2 separate regions of the Homo sapiens genome follow, and region 1 is linked to region 2. Evidence: fine-mapped expression QTL. Tissue or cell type: whole blood. Region 2 holds a variant in brackets; the other region holds the start of a gene. All regions are shown on one strand. Distances are between the middles of the regions.

Region 1 (8,100 bases), 56 kb after region 2:
TCCAGGAGTTTGAGACCAGCCTGGGCAACGTGGTGAAACCCCTTTCTCTACAAAAAAATTACAAAAATTATCCGAGTGTGGTGGTGCATGCCTGTAGTCCCAGCTACTCAGGAGGCTCAGGTGGAAGGATTGCTTGAGCCTGAGAGGTGGAGGTTGTAGTGAGCTGAGATCTTGCCACTGTACTCCAGCCTGGGTGACAGAGTGAGACCCTCTCTCAATAAAAAAGAAAAAAGTAAACGAAGATTTAGGTGCTAGATCTGCTCACCCAATTTTTGTTTTTTTGGGACGGAGTCTCGCTCTGTCCCCCAGGCTGGAGTGCAGTGGCGCGATCTCGGCTCACTGCAAGCTCCGCCTCCCGGGTTCACGCCATTCTCCTGCCTCAGCCTCCCGAGTAGCTGGGACTACAGGCGCCCGCCACCACGCCCGGCTAATTTTTTGTATTTTTAGTAGAGATGGGGTTTTACTGTGTTAGCCAGGATGGTCTCGAGCTCCTGACCTCATGATCCGCGCACCTCGGCCTCCCAAAGTGCTGGGATTACAGGCGTGAGCCACCATGCCCGGCCCTGCTCACCCAATATTTTTATCAATAGCTTGAATAAAGGCATAAGGAATGGTTATCATGTTTACAGATGACCCCATACTGGAAGGGGAAGCCAAATGTATGATAATAGAATCAGTTTTCAACATGACTTCAGTGGGATGACATCTGAGCCAGAACCACTAGATTTATTTATTTTATTATTAATTAATTAATTAATTTTTTTTTTTTTTGAGATGGAGTCTCGCTCTGTGGCCCAGGCTGGAGTGCAGTGGCGTGATCTCGGCTCACTGCAAGCTCCACCTCCCGGGTTCGCGCCATTCTCCTGCCTCAGCCTCCTGAGTAGCTGGGACTACAGGCACCCACCACTGTGCCCGGCTAATTTTTTTTTGTATTTTTATTAGAGACGGGGTTTCACCATGGTCTCGATCTCCTGACCTCGTGATCCGCCTGCCTCGGCCTCCTAAAGTGCTGGGATTACAGGCGTGAGCCACCGCGCCTGGCTGGTAAAACTCTTTATTGGACCAAAGTTGATATAAAAAAAATAGTTCTGGTTGTCAGCTGACATGAGTCAGCAGTATTCTGTGACTCAAGTTGCATTCATTCATTCATTCATCCAGTACTTACTGAAGTCCTGCTTACCATGTGCCAAGCACTATTCTAGAGGCTTGAGATACATTACTTAACAAACCAAATAAGCAAAAATCTCTGCCCTCTCAGTCAGCATTCTGGGGGAGATGGGATGTCAGACAATAAAGAAAAACCATAACTAATATATCGTATGTTATTCAGTGATGAGTGCTCTGAAAAAATATCTCAAGGTATTTTTAAGGAGATAAGGGGCATATTAGGAGGAAGTTCAGATTCTTCAAGGTGATAAATGAGCAAAAGGAAGCAAGGGACTCAGTCCTGTGGTTATCTAGGGGGAGAGTGTGCCAGGTGAGGGAGCAGCCAGGTCAAAGGCCCTGCTGGTTCGGGCTACTATATATGTACCTGGTGTGGATGAGTGAGGGGAAAAGTAGTAGAGGATGCAGTGGTACTGGTGGTGAGGATGACATGGAGGGCTTTGCAGACCACTCCAAGTAAGGTCATTGTGAATGAGATGGGGGAACCCTTGGAGGGTTTTGAGCAGAGGAAAGCCCTGATCTGGCTTGTGTTGTGTGTTGTTTTGTTTAAGATGGAGTCTTGCTCTGTAGCCCAGGCTGGAGTGCAGTAGCACAATCTCAGCTCACTGCAACCTCCGCCTCCCAGGCCCCGGTTCAAGCAATTCTCCTGCCTCAGCCTCCCGAGTAGCTGGGATTACAGGCACACACCACCATGCCCAGCTAATTTTTGTGTTCTTAGTAGAGATGGGGATTCACCATGTTGGCCAGGCTGGTCTTGAACTCCTGACCTCAAGTGATCTGCCCGCCTCGGCCCACCAAAGTGCTGGGATTACAGGCGTGAGCCACCACCCCTGTCCTGGCTTGTGTTTTAAAGACTCACTCCAGCTGCTGTGTTGAGAATAGATTGTAGGGGAACCAAGGAGGAAACGGGGAGAACAGTTAGGAGGCCCTTGCAGTAACCAGGAGAAAGAGGGTGGTGCCTGGGCCCTAGGGAGCTGGGAAGTGGTCAGATTATAGATTTTCTAATGGACTGGATGTGAGGAGTGAGATAATGAGAGGAGCTGAGGGTTTTGGCCTGAGCAATTTAAAGATGGAATTGCCATTAAATGAAATGGGGAAGGCTGTAGGTGGAGCACATTTTTGAGAAGGGGGAGAGATCAGGAGCTTAGTTTGGGACATGTTGGGCTCGAGATGGTTTTCAGACAGCCAAGTAGAAATATTGAGGCCGGGTCAGGTGTGGTGGCTCACGCCTGAAATCCCAGCACTTTGGGAGGCCAAGGCAGGTGGATCACGAGGTCAGGAGTTCAAGACCAGCCTGGCCAACATTGTGAAACCCTGTCTCTATTAAAAATACAAAAAATTAGCGGGGTGTGGTGGCATAAACCTGTAATCTCAGCTACTCGGGAGGCTGAGGCAGGAGAATCACTTGAACCCAGAAGGCAGAGGTTGCAGTGAGTGGAGATTGCACCATTGCACTCCAGCCTGGGCAAAAGAGCAAGACTCTGTCTCAAAAAAAAAAAAGTTGAGGCCTTTTGGAGTTAAGGGCTGAGCAGGGCTGGACTAGGCGGCAGATAGGGGTTTGGGTATCACTGGCTGTAGGTGGATTGAACCCATTTAGAGTAAGCATCCAAACCTGGGCAATAGTAGCACTGTGGGTGCTTGGTGCTGTCCATATCCCATGTGGAATTCTGTGTCCAGTTCTGGGAGCCCCTTTAAAAGGGATGCTGCTAGCCTGCACCATGTCCACAGAAGGTGATGGAGGTACAGAAATCATGCAGCATGAGGAAACTTAGCTGTAAGAAAGGAGACCTGGGACCATGTGGGTGCTGTGCCCACCCTCTTGACAGCATCCCTGTTGTGGGAGCAGATGTGGCAGACCCTGAAAGTCGGGAGGAGAGGAAAAGAGGTGCTCTGAGGAGGCTGATTTTGGCTGGGGGTGAAGAGGAGCTTTCCTGCAATTGCAGCAAATTTATGGAGCGATGGTCTCTACTGCCATGGAAATAACTAGCAGAGGCTTTCACTCTTTTGGACTCTTAACTACAGGAGGAACTACTACATTTTTCTGTAATCCTGTGCACACTTAGGAAAAGTTGAAGTAGCTTTCCCAAAATTACTTATCCTTTGAGATTATTGCTTAGATAGTTTCTATGTTTTGTTTGTTTCTTAATGCTGTTGGGATCCACTAAATTGATTTCAGAATCTGCTAATGGTCCAGGCTGCAGTTGGAAACCCCTGGTCTCAGCAGAGCTGAACTCCACCCGTGGAGATGTTAGGAGCCAGGAGGATTAGGGGTGGGTGCCTCTGGGCTTCCACTCCAGTCTTAGGGGTTCCCTTCCCCTGCCGGGTCACGTGCAGGTTGTGAAGGTTTTACCTCCTCAGCAGTACATTAAATCCTATTATCCCACTTAAGCTAATCTTGCCCTTCCCCCACCCGAGGGCTTCGCGTGGACAGAATATTAAGCGGACAAGCCCGCAGGGTGCCTAGACTAAGTGCTGAGCTTGTAGTGAATGCCCAGCCATGACTTGCAGTGGATTGACCTGTGCAAAAATTGGACTCTCAAGCTGCTAGCCCCAGTGTCAGCACGAGCTCGGCCGAGTTCATTTGGTCGCAGGAACAAGGGGGTCGCCAGGAGCAAGAGCGGAGGGGGCGCCTAAAGGGAGGAGACCAAGGCCTAATCACCATCCGCCCCCTAACTCCCTAGGCGCATAGCGGGGACGCAGCGTGTCCCCAAACCAACGCCACTAGCAGAGGGTCCCAGAGGAGCCGGAAGGGGCCAGGGCCTGGGCGGCGGTGGGAGGGTCTGAGCAGTGGGGGCGGGGAGCTGGGGGTCGGCTTTCGTCCGCGTCCCAGCGCTCCGGCGGCCGCCGGGGCTACTGATCCCGGGCTTGGCCCCTGCGGCAGCGCCCCGAGCTGCCGCCCCTCGCGCTGCCAGCGCCCGGGAAGGAGGAAGGGGGAAGGGGGCGGGCCGGCCGGGCTCACGGCCGACTTCCTCCTTCAGCCCCGCCCTCCGCCGCTTGCGGGTGAGCTCTGCCCAAGCCGAGGCTGCGGGGCCGGCGCCGGCGGGAGGACTGCGGTGCCCCGCGGAGGGGCTGAGTTTGCCAGGGCCCACTTGACCCTGTTTCCCACCTCCCGCCCCCCAGGTCCGGAGGCGGGGGCCCCCGGGGCGACTCGGGGGCGGACCGCGGGGCGGAGCTGCCGCCCGTGAGTCCGGCCGAGCCACCTGAGCCCGAGCCGCGGGACACCGTCGCTCCTGCTCTCCGAATGCTGCGCACCGCGATGGGCCTGAGGAGCTGGCTCGCCGCCCCATGGGGCGCGCTGCCGCCTCGGCCACCGCTGCTGCTGCTCCTGCTGCTGCTGCTCCTGCTGCAGCCGCCGCCTCCGACCTGGGCGCTCAGCCCCCGGATCAGCCTGCCTCTGGGTGAGTGCCGGGGACCCGGGGACGCGGGCCGGGGGAAGGAAGGCTGCCGGGGACGTGCCTCGTGCGGAGGTGGCCGTGACAAAGGACCAAGGAGGGGACCTGTCGGAGGCACGGGATCCATTAGGACCCCTTCTTTTTTCAAGGCGCTGCGCGGAGGGAGGGAGAGGAGAGGGGAGCTGTGGGGCCGCTGGCCCCTTTCTTCAGTTTTCTTTCTGCGTAGGGATGGGGTCTAGCCCGCTCTGTCGTCCCCCCTAGTTCCCTTAGGAGGATGCACTTTCGGCGGGGTCCGCCTGCCCATCTACTTGTCTTTGATGCTGACCAGAGCCGACCGCGGTGCCGCCCCCGAGGGCGGCTCGGGGTAGAGGGAGGCCACTGCTTGCAGTCCTATAAACACTGGGGTTCTGGTATTCCCAGCAAGTCGCAGCAGGGCCGGGAGCTGTGGTGGGCGGGCAGGCGCCCGATCCTCCCTCTCCGCCCCTCCATCCCTGGCTTGCCAGTGCAGCCCCAAGCCCCAGCATGGAGAGACCTCCAGGCCCTGGGAGCGACCAGACTGCGGATGGGGGCAGCTCTGGGCGCTGACATTCCCAAGTCCTGGGAGCGAACAGACTGCGGATGGGGGCAGCTCTGGGCGCTGACATTCCCAAGTCCTGGGCGCGACCCCTCCTCAGAGTGACCTGGGAGTAGCATCCTGGTTGGCTGGGTTCCTTTCCTGGTCCTCACATCTGCTTCTGTGGCCACCTCCTGTTTCAGCCCTCCGCCCTTCCCTCTCCTTTTCCCTTCCATCCGGTTGCTTCTCCAGCTCTTCTTGGGGCACTTGGGCTTTAGATTCAGAGGGTCCTGGATCCCAAGCCCATTTCTTCCACTGGGCAAGTAAGTGCCTTCTGCTCCCAGTGCCCCACCTTTCTCATCTGCAAAATAGGCAGTCGTAGGTGCCTTGCAAGGTGTGTTACTCGGGTATGAAGTTTATAAGTGCCCAACAGATGTATCCGCAAGCCCTTTAACTTGTTGGTTGTCATATTGTATGACTTGGAATAAAGCATGTATGAATTAGAGGTTACAGACTGAAACTGTCCCAGACTTCCATCTCCTCACAGCATCCCCACCTCTAAAAGCATCCTGTTTACAAAGGGAAATAGTAGAATCAGCACTTAAATTAAGGCAGGGCCCTAGCGGCTTCAAGTAACCCTACCTGAACCCCTGTCTGAAATACTGCAGATGACCTGGGTTCAAATGCTACCTCAGCCACTTAGTAACCATGTGACCTTGAGCAGGCTACTTAAAGTTTCTGGGTCTTGATTTCTTCATCTGTAAAACAGGTATAATAACAGAACCTACCTCAAGGTAGTGAGGATTAAATCAGCTCGTGTTTGAAAAGTCGTTAGGACAGGGCCTGGTACGGGAACCGCTGAATGAGTGTTACTCAGCTCAGAGTTTACTTCTGTACATCTTGCCCAGATCTGGGGTGATTCTGCCTGGGGTTAGGACAGGGTTGGGGTGTTAGTTTGACTGTAGCCCCTTGGGTGCTTCAGCTTGTGAAGTCAGGATGAACAGGTGTAACCAGCCCCAGGCCTGCTGTCTTGCTACTTCTGTTGTGGCCACAACTCCCTTTGCCCTCAGACCCTCTCATTTTTGGGAGAAGGCAGGGTGAGATGGGGGCAGATGCTCCAATGGACTCCACTTATGGCCTTGGGAAAGCTGGGCCAGCTCATGGGACCATGTCAAAAGACGGTAGGTTTCATGTCCAACTCTGGAACTGGATGGGACAATCACAGGGTAGCTAGAAGGCAAAACTGGAGAGCAGCGAGGGGAATCGAGGGGACCTGCTTCCCGAGGAGCAGCTAGAATACTTGGTTATTATTACCAATGCAGCTGCAGGACCTGGTCCACTTCTACAAGCCCGTGACTGTTCCCAGGCTTCTGTCACGCACCAGCATTCACCTGTCAGGGCTGCCGTAGGTGGGCTTGCATTTTGTGCATTGTACCAAGGTGCCCAGCTGAGGGTTGAGAGGACCTGAAATGCAGTCCACACTCAGCTCTCCAACCTAAGAGTCCTGGAGCAAAAGACCCCTTCTGCTATGTTCTTGGGGCTAGGTCTGCCCGGAGTGGCCCATTTTTCCAGTCCCACCAAAGCCCTGGAATAGTGTAGTGGCACCTAGCTACCTGAACTTGTGAGCACGTATCTATAGTCGACTGAGTTGCCACTATACCCTGGAGTGCCCCCTCTCTGGGCTTCCTCCTGGCCCTCATACCCACCTCCTACTCTTACCTACGTGCAGGTCCTAGGGCTGGCTGGGAGTCCGAGAGGGGAATGCCCTGGTAACTGAACAGGCTCACCCTTGAGTGTGGCCTAAGGCGGTTTCCTGCCTCATCCCAGGGGGCTCATTAGATGTTCCTGGCAGTGTGCCCATCCTGGGCAGGCTCGTGGTGACCATGGGACGCCGGGCCCAGGGCCCTAGTGCCCTCCCTTGCATGCATCTTAGGAGAAAGAGTCATGGAACTGGATATTACACACCCCTCTTTCCTCCTGCCACTCACTCCTCTACTGAATTCCCACCCATGCCCCGTAAGGACCCAGATGCCTAGGGACAGTGGGGCTATGTCTGTGGTTTAAAACAAAATCCCTTGAAGTGGAGCGTCCAGCTTGCCCTGCATCTGGGGTCCTTCATAGGGAACCCTAATTATTGTTGATGAACAGCACATTCCTGGGGTGCTTAAGATGCAGGGAGCCGATTTGTGGCCTCGCCCAGTGGCCAGTAGGGAGAGGAGGATGAGGGGACAGCCACTGGGGGCTCCACAGTCAGCTGGAAATCTCTGAAAGGAACACTTCAAAGAAGTGTGTGGAATTTGGGTTCTCTTGCGTTGGAACTACCATGCAGAGCTCCAGGACCAAAGCCTCGGTCAGGAGCAGGAGTGGTGCTGAGTAGAAACAATGGCGCCCAGTGCTTCCCAGCCTGGCCACGTGGGGAGAAACAAAACACGCCTCCTCTCATGGCCCTCCAAAGTCTTTTTGGGCCACCTTATTTGGACACTTAATGGGAGTTATTATTATTGTTATTTTGAGATGGAGTTTCGCTCTGTCTCCCAGGCTGGAGTACAGTGATGCCATCTCCGCTCACTGCAGCCTCCACCTCCCAAGTTCAAGTGATTCTCCTGCCTCAGCCTCTCGAGCAGCTGAGACTACAGGTGCCCGCCACCATGCTTAGCTAATTTTTGTATTTTTGTAGAGATGGGATTTCACCATGTTGTCCAGGCTGGTCTCGAACTTCTGACCTTAGGTGATCTGCCCATCTTGGCCTCCCAAAGTGCTGGGATTACAGGCATGAGCCACCACATCCGGCCTTAAAGGGAGTTATTAATTCCCTCCTGCCCCAGAAGTGCCGGGCGGGAAAGCTCTGGACGCAGTATTTCTGAAGCAGATTGGACAGAAATCTGCAGGCCTGCAAACTGCAGTCAACAAAACGCCATTGAGCAGAGAGAATGGAGCATTTGGCACAAATCAGCTGCTTGCCCTCTGGCCCTGGAGGAGGCAGCCAGGGTC
Region 2 (8,100 bases):
TCTCACCCGCCCCCGACCACCAAGCTAAATAATTACCTCTTGAAGCCACTTGCTATATGGGCTCTAGACTAACTGACACCACCACATAGCCATAAAATGCCATATTCCAGACACTATAACTCATACCCCATAGCTCAACAATGCATAGCCAATCACAAGCCAATGTTATTCCTGCAAACTAATAAGAACATTGTTGAATCACCCACTCCTTGTCCCCTTTTGCCTTTAAAGGCCTGCTTGTAACAAAAGCCGAACACACAGCGTACCCCAAGGCAACTTGAAGTGTGTCCCCAATGGCTGTCCTCACTCTTGGCCCAAATTAACCCTGTATATTGATTTTGCCTCAGCTTCTTTCTCTCGGTCAACACTAGAATGTCCAACAGCCAGTTTGGGGTGGATGGGAGGGCGAGCCCTCTGAGCACCTGCCCTGTTCGTGCTCTGAGTGGGTCTCAGCGGCCGGACGGCTTGCTCTCCCCTCGGGCCGTGAAGTCCTCAGCCTCCCAAAGTCTGACGTCCTTGGAAATATTTGAGGTCCTCCAGACTCCAGCAGCAAGCTTGTGGCAGGAGCGGCAGGGGGATGAAGGAACTGGACTGTGGGAAGTGCCTAATGAGTCAGCCAACTCTGTGGAGGGGAGGGAAGGAAACATGCCGTGTTAAGAGGATCTGCAAGCCAGGGACGGGTGGGGAGTGGAGCCCGTGGAGGATGGACAGCTGGACCATGTGAGTTTCCATTGTGTCGGGGGGAACGTGTCACCCAGAGGTCTCTCCAGCAGTCTCCCCACCCCCACCCCTGCAGATTCCACAGGACCAAGGGCTTCCCTGGACAAGGGCCTGGTCCTTGGAGTCTAAGGCAAGACTCCAATCTCCACAGTTGCCCGAGCTCTCTTCCCTGTTTGGGACTTGGGAACGGGAAGATTTGGGAGGTGAAGAGCTGGGACTCCCTTTGGTGGAGAAAGCTTGGGTTTCAGCACTGACTTGGAGAGACCAAAACAAAGGGTTTTTGGCCAGGATAGAGTGATTCTCAGGAGGAAAGGCAGGAAAGCATTTCCCCATATTCAGGTAAGGAGAGAGAGAAAATTAACAAACTGTTGCTGTGGAGGGAGACAAACACCTTGATAAACTCAAGAAGCTGGTTACGGGGATCCCGGCAAACCCGCCGGCGCAGAGCACAGTAGTGGAGAGGCCCGGGGAATCCCAGCAAAAAACACCCCACCGGCTGGGCGCCGCGGCTCACACCTGTAATCCCGGCACTTTGGGAGGCTGAGGTGGGCAGATCACAAGGTCAAGAGTTCTAGACCAGTCTGGCCAACATGGTGAAACTCAGTCTCTACTAAAAATACAAAAATTAGCCGGGTGTGGTGGTGGGTGCCTGTAATCCCAGCTACTTGGGAGACTGAGGCAGGAGAATCTCTTGAACTAGGGAGGCAGAGGTTGCAGTGAGCTGAGATCACACCATTGCACTGCAGCCTGGGTGACAGAGCAAGGCTCCGTCTCAAAAAAAAAAAAAAAGACAAAAAGAAAAACACCCCACCAACCAGCAAACAAAACAACAAAAACCAAGGAGGAACGACCAGGAACAGTGTCTGTAGCCTCAAATGCCTTTATACCAGTGACGGTGACACCACACCGTGGGGCCCTGCCCCCAATCAACTGAAAAATGAGGCAGCGACAGTTGTGGGAAGCCATCAGTGGGAGGAGACCAAAAGACTAGAGTGGTTTTTTTCTGCTTTGTTGAAATACAATTGACAAATAAAAGTATACATATTAAAAGCATACAACGTGATGACTTGGTATATGGACACGTGAGATGATTATGACAATCAAGCTGATTGACACACTCATCACCTCCCATAGTTACCGTTGTTACCCATTTTTTTAAAAAAAACGAGAACACTTTAGAGGTACTCTCAAAAGATTGTTTTGTAAAGTTGTTTTTAAAGGTTGGGATCACCCAGACTCTAATTCAAGTGACCTTATGGGAGCCCGGGAAGACAGGATTGTAAGCAGGTAAAGGAAACCTCCACAATTCTGTTTCTTGGTGAGGAGAAAGCCTGTCTTGAAGGAGGTGTGGAGGAGGCGGGGGCCGGCAGCCAGTTGACGAACAGCCAGAAGGTGGCAGTGTCTACCTGGGGAGGGGCAGTGGGCTGAGCCCCTGGCTGGGGCGAGTCCTTTATCACACCACAGCCAGGGCCAGCTGTGTGCAGCCCCAGATTACTCCTTGACAAGACTCAGTCCCGCCAGGCCCTCCCCGCAGGCCTGTTTTTTATGCTGGTCTGGCCATGAGGTAAGGCTGGATAGGGACAAAGTGCCCGAGCATGACAGCTGCCCAGGCTGGGCCCAGTTGCACAGCTTGGGTGGCCCTAGCCTTCGAGCTCTAAATCGAGTCTCCTCCTACTCCTAGCCCATGGCAGTCGGGCCCCGGACATTCTCCTCACTGCTTCCAGGATTCTAGAGGGCTTTCCAGTGCCCCTGGCCCCAGTCCTGCAGTGTTGACCTCCTGAGTCCCTGCCTCTCACTTCCCGGTGATGTCCCTCTGCTCTGTGCCCATCCTAGAAAAAAAAAAAAAAAAAGCCCTCTTTCTATGCTTTCTTTTTTCTTTCTTTTCTTTCTTTCTTTTTTTTTTTTAATGAGACAGTCTTTTTCTGTCACCCAGACTGGAGTGCAGTGACGTGATCTCAGCTCACTGTAACCTCTGCCTCCCAGGTTCAAGCGATTCTCCTGTCTCAGCCTCCCGAGTAGCTGGGACTACAGACACCCGCCACCACACCCGGCTAATTTTTGTATTTCTGGTAGAGATGGGGTTTCACCATGTTGATCAGGCTGGTCTTGAACTTTTGACCTCGTGATCCACCCACCTTGGCCTCCCAAAGTGCTGGGATTACAGGCGTGAGCCACAACGCCCGGCTTTTTCGTATTTTTAATGGAGATGCGGTTTCACCATGTTGGCCAGGCTGGTCTCAAACTCCTGACCTCAGGTGACCCACCCGCCTCAGCCTCCCAAAGTGAAAGTGCTGGGATTACAGGTGTGAGCCACCGTGCCCGGCCTTTCTATGCTTTCTTGTCACATGAGCTACAGCTTTTACTGAAGGCTTGGGCAATAGAGGGGTGTACTGGGGTGTACTTAGTAGGAAAACAAACCATTTCAAAAAGAATAGTACAGATCCTGTTCTTAAAAGTCCTTTGAGGTCTGGCATGGTGGCTCATGCCTGTAATCCCAACACTTTGGGAGGCCAAGACAGGCAGATCACAAGGACAAGAGTTCGAGACCAGCCTGGCCAACATGGTGAAACCCCGTCTTTACTAAAAATTAAAGAATTAGCCGGGGGTGGTGGCATGCGCCCGTAGTCCCAGCTACTCAGGAGGCTGAGGCAGGAGAATTGCTTGAACCTGGGAGGCAGAAGCTGTAGTGAGCTGAGATCGCACCACTGTACTCCAGCCTGGGCCACAGAGCAAGACTCCATCACCAAAAAAAAAAAAAGAAAAGAAAAAAAAAAAGTCCTTCGAGGCTGGGTGCAGTGGCTCACTCCTGTGATCCCAACACTTTGGGAGGCTGAGGCGGGCGGATCACCTGAGGTTGGGAGTTCAAGACCAACATGACCAACATCGAGAAACTCCATCTTACTAAAAATACAAAATTAGCTGGGTGTGGCAGCACATGCCCGTAATCCGAGCTACTCGGGAGGCTGAGGTAGGAGAATCACTTGAACCCAGAGGCGGAGGTTGCAGTGAGCTGAGATCACGCCATTGCACTCCAGCCTGGGCAACAAGAGTCTCAAAAAAAAAAAAAAAGCCCTTTGGTCTCCCCGCCACTGTGAAATTCTCAGTGGACACATACCTCCCAGGCTCTGCCCTTGCCATTTTGTTTTCTCCCTCCCTCCTCCCTCCTTCACCCTTCATTTCTATGACCATCTTTCCATTTCTTCTTCTCTTTTGGGGTCCCTCGCCCCCAAGTTCCGGTTAACGTTCTCTGTAAAGCCGTTTGATTCCTCCTGTGTTTAAACATCTTCCTTCAACTATGTCCTTAGCACCTCCCCTTCCTCAACAAAAGTGGCTATCAAGATATTTTCCTAAACAAAAACCGGTCTCACCCTGCTAAATGCATTGGAAACTTACCACCTGGTGTATATATTGGCCTCCTGAGCAATTGATTAGTCTGAGTCCACAGCTGGGACCTGGCTCTCCTCTCCACCAGCTGCCAGGCGGAGGGCAGACCCAGGGCCCCAGGGGTGAATTTGTCAGGGCAAAGGCCTCTGTGGGCAGCCTCTTGGCAGCCTGCCAGTAGCCCCTTCTGGCAGCGTCCCACCTCTCCCGGCATCACAGATCAAGCCTCAGAAGAGCAGGGCCTAAGGAGAAAACCCGAGAGTGACGATGGC[A/G]AAGAGTGATCACAACACCCCAGGTGGGTGGACTCCGGGGGAACGCAGAGGTACTCGGGCCCAGAGCTGGTGGGAGAGGGGAGGTGATGGGAAACTGGACACCCAGAAAGTCCCACCAGCATGGAAATCCACTGGGGGGCTCAGCACCCCTGGAGAGGCACTGGGAGTTGGGAGGATCAAAGGAAAGACAGGGCTCTCACTGCCGGTGAATAGGACAAGCTGGGAAGGAAACAGACAATGCTTTCCAGGTTGGATTGCCAAGGCAGAGAGGCAAGAGAGGGGATGGAGAGAAGTCTTCAAAACTGCCATTCAAGGCCAGGCACAGTGGCTCTCCACCTGTAATCCCAACACTTTGGGAAGTTGAGGCAGGAGGATCGCTTGAGCCTAGGAGTTTGCGACCAGCCTGGGCAACATAGCAAGACCCCGTCTCTAAAAAAGTAGAAAACTTAGCAGGACATGGTGGTGTATGCCTATAGTCAGAGCTATTCAGAAGGCTGAGGTGAGAGGACTGTGTGAGCCCAGAACATCTAGGCTGCAGTGAGCTGACATCACACCACTACACTCATTCAGCCTGGACGACAAAGTGAGACCCTGTCACAAAAAAAGAAAAAAAAAAAAAACAGGCCAGGCATGGTTGCTCATGCTCATAATCCTAGCACTTTGGGAGTTTAAGGCAGGCAGATTGCCTGAGTTCAGTAGTTTGAGACCAGCCTGGCCAACATGGTGAAACCCGGTCTCTACTAAAAATACAAAAATTAGCCAGGCATGGTGGGGAGCACCTGTAATCCCAGCTACTCAGGAGGCTGAGGCATGAGAATCACTTGAACCTGGGAGGCGGAGGTTGCAGTGAGCTGAGATCGCACCACCGCACTCCAGCCTGGGTGAAAGAACTAGACTCCATTTCAAAACAAAACAAAAACCAAAAAACTGCTCTTCAATAAGCCCTTACCACGTGTCAGGCACTGAACACTGACAGCAGCTAACAATTACACTGACTTACTCCACACCAGGCTTGTTCTAAGCAGCTGCTGTCCAATAAACACATAATGCAAGCCACATAGGTAGTTTTGTTGTTGTTGTTAATGTTTGTTTTTGGGTTTTTTTTGAGATGGAGTTTCACTCTTGTTGCCCAGGCTGGAGTGCAATAGTGTGATCTTGGCTCACCGCAACCTCCGCCTCCCGGGTTCAAGTGACTCTCCTGCCTCAGCCTCCCGAGTAGCTGGGATTACAGGCATGTGCCACCATGCCCGGCTAATTTTGTATTTTTAGTGGAGATGGGGTTTCTCCATGTTGGTCAGGCTGGTCTCAAACTCCAGACCTCAGGTGATCCGCCCGCCTCGGCCTCCCAAAGTGCTAGGATTACAGGCGTGAGCCACTGCGCCTGGCCTAGTAGTTGTTTTTTAATTTATTAATTTACTTTTCACCATGGCAGAAAAGAGCGTAGTTTTAAAAACTCTAGTAGCTGCATTTTTAAAAGTAAAAACAAAAAACCCACTGGTGAAATTAATTGTAATAATATATTCTATTTAGACTGAGTGTGGTGGCTCACTCCTGTCCTCCCAGCAGTTTGGGAGGCTGAGGCAGGCAGATCACTTGAGGTCAGAAGTTCAAGACCAGCCTGGCCAATATGGGGAAAGCCCGTCTCTACCAAAAATACAAAAATTAGCCAGGCGTGATGGCATACGCCTGTAATCCCAGCTACTCAGGAGGCTGAGGCAGAAGAACCGGTTGAAGCCTGGAGGTGGAGGTTGCAGTGAGCCGAGATGGTGCCACTACACTCCAGCCTGGAGGTGGAGGTTGCAGTGAGCCGAGATGGTGCCACTACACTCCAGCCTGGGCAACAGAGTGAGACTCCATCTCAAAAACAAACAAACAAATAATATATTCTATGTATTACAATATATTCTATGTAACCCAATATAATCAATAATTAGGGAGTTATTTTACTTTTTTTTGAGACAGGGTCTCACTCTGTTGCCTAGACTGGAGTGTGGCACGATCACAACTCACTACATCCTTGACCTCCCCTAGGCTCAGGTGATCCTTCCACCTCAGCCTCCCGAGTAGTTGGGACTATAGGCGCGTACCACCAGGCCCTGATAATGTTTTGTATTTTTTGTAAAGATGGGGTTTCACGATGTTGCCCAGGCTGGTCTCAAACTCCTGGACTCAAACAATCCACCCACCTCAGCCTCCCAAAGTGCTGGGATTACAGGTATGAGCTATTGCACCTGGCCTTTTTTGTATGAAGTCTTCAAAATCCGATGTGAATTTATGCATACATCACATTTCAGGGTTTTTTTGTTTGTTTTGTTTTTTTGAGACAGGGTCTCACTCTGTCACCCTGGCTGGAGTGCAGTGGCACAATCATGGCTCACTGCAGCTTTGACCTTCTAAACTCAAGCAGTCCTCCTTCCTCAGCCTCCCGAGTAGCTGAGACTACAGGCACATGCCACCACACCAGGCTAATTTTTAAATTTTTTTTTTTTTTTTTGTAGAGACAGGGTCTCACCATGTTGTCCAGGCTGGTCACAAACTCCTGGGCTCAAGCGATCCTCCCGCCTCAGCTTCTCAAACTGTTGGGATTACAGGTGTGAGCCACTGTGCCTGGCCTCCCGACTCAGCCTCCCAAAGTGTTGGGATTACAGGCGCGAGCACCACGCAGGGTACATCTCAGTTTAGACAAACCACGTTTTCTTTTTGTTTTACTTTTTCTTTTTTTTTTTTGAGATGGAGTCTCGCATTGTTACGATCTCAGCTCACTGCAACCTCCGCCTCCCAGGTTCAAGCAATTCTCCTTGCCTCAGCCTCCCAAGTAGCTGGGATAGACAAGCCACATTTCAAGTGCTCAGTAGGTACTGTGGCTGATGGCTACACTATTAGATGCAGCTGTCTAAGTGCTTTAGCTGTGTTAGTCCTCACAACTGTGCTTTTGTTATCCTCATTTTACAGATGAGAAAATTTACACAGAAAGTGCTTCAGCACTTTGCCCATTGCTACCCAGAAAGAAAAGGGCTGAGCTGGAATCTGAGCCACCAAGGTCAGCCAACTGAGGGTCCACAGTCTGGTGTCCTAACAACTGTGCTATGCTGTCAGCTTCACAAATCTCATCTCCCATAGGAGGTCATCAAAAAGCTGCTTGCAGCTGGGTGCAGTGGCTCACACCTGTAATCCCGGCACTTTGGGAGGCCGAGGCAGGCAGACCACTTGAGGTCAGGAGTTCAAGACCAGCCTGGCCAACATGGTGAAACCCCATCTCTACTAAAAATACAAAAATTAGCCAGGTGTGGTGGTGCGTGCCTGTAGTCTCAGCTACTTGGGAGGCTGAAGCAGGAGAATCTGCTTGAACCCTGGAGGCGGAGGTTGCAGCAAGCCAAGATTGCGCCACTGCACTCCAGCCTGGGTGACAGAGCAAGACTCTATCTCAAAAAGAAAGAAAGAAAGAAAGAGAGAGAGAGGAAGGAAGGAAGGAAGGAGGGAAGAAAGAAAGAAAGAAAACAATAATCCAATATATAGGCAAGAGCCCTTACTTCTCTACTACTTACAGTCTAGTGTTCAGAGAATGTAGGAGTGAGCCCAGAGAGCTTCCCAAGCCTACCATGTCGTCACTGCCTACAAGAGTCCCTGAAGATGGCCACACAAAACCCTGGGGCTTACTCATACATGTTCACAGTTTCATTTTCTTATCATATTGGTCAGTTTCATCTACACTGGAACGTGGTTCCAC

Evidence for each region. PIP is the estimated chance that this variant, and not a neighbour inherited with it, causes the effect.
Region 1: it holds the start of SEMA4B, and the variant in region 2 is fine-mapped to the expression of SEMA4B in whole blood (INTERVAL, PIP above 0.99).

What each region holds. Positions count from the first base shown.
Region 1 is chr15:90,197,174-90,205,273 of GRCh38, forward strand. It overlaps SEMA4B (semaphorin 4B), which reads left to right and starts at 4,157. Exons shown (of 14, transcript NM_198925.4): 1 at 4,157-4,562. The coding sequence starts at 4,406. RefSeq lists an enhancer at 3,705-4,676 and a silencer at 3,849-4,608.
Region 2 is chr15:90,141,214-90,149,313 of GRCh38, forward strand. No RefSeq gene overlaps it. Among named protein-coding and RNA genes, the nearest start is that of IDH2, 43 kb to the left of the region's middle. RefSeq lists enhancers at 484-778, 2,328-2,862, 7,976-8,100. The variant A/G (reference allele first, on the strand shown) is at 4,374.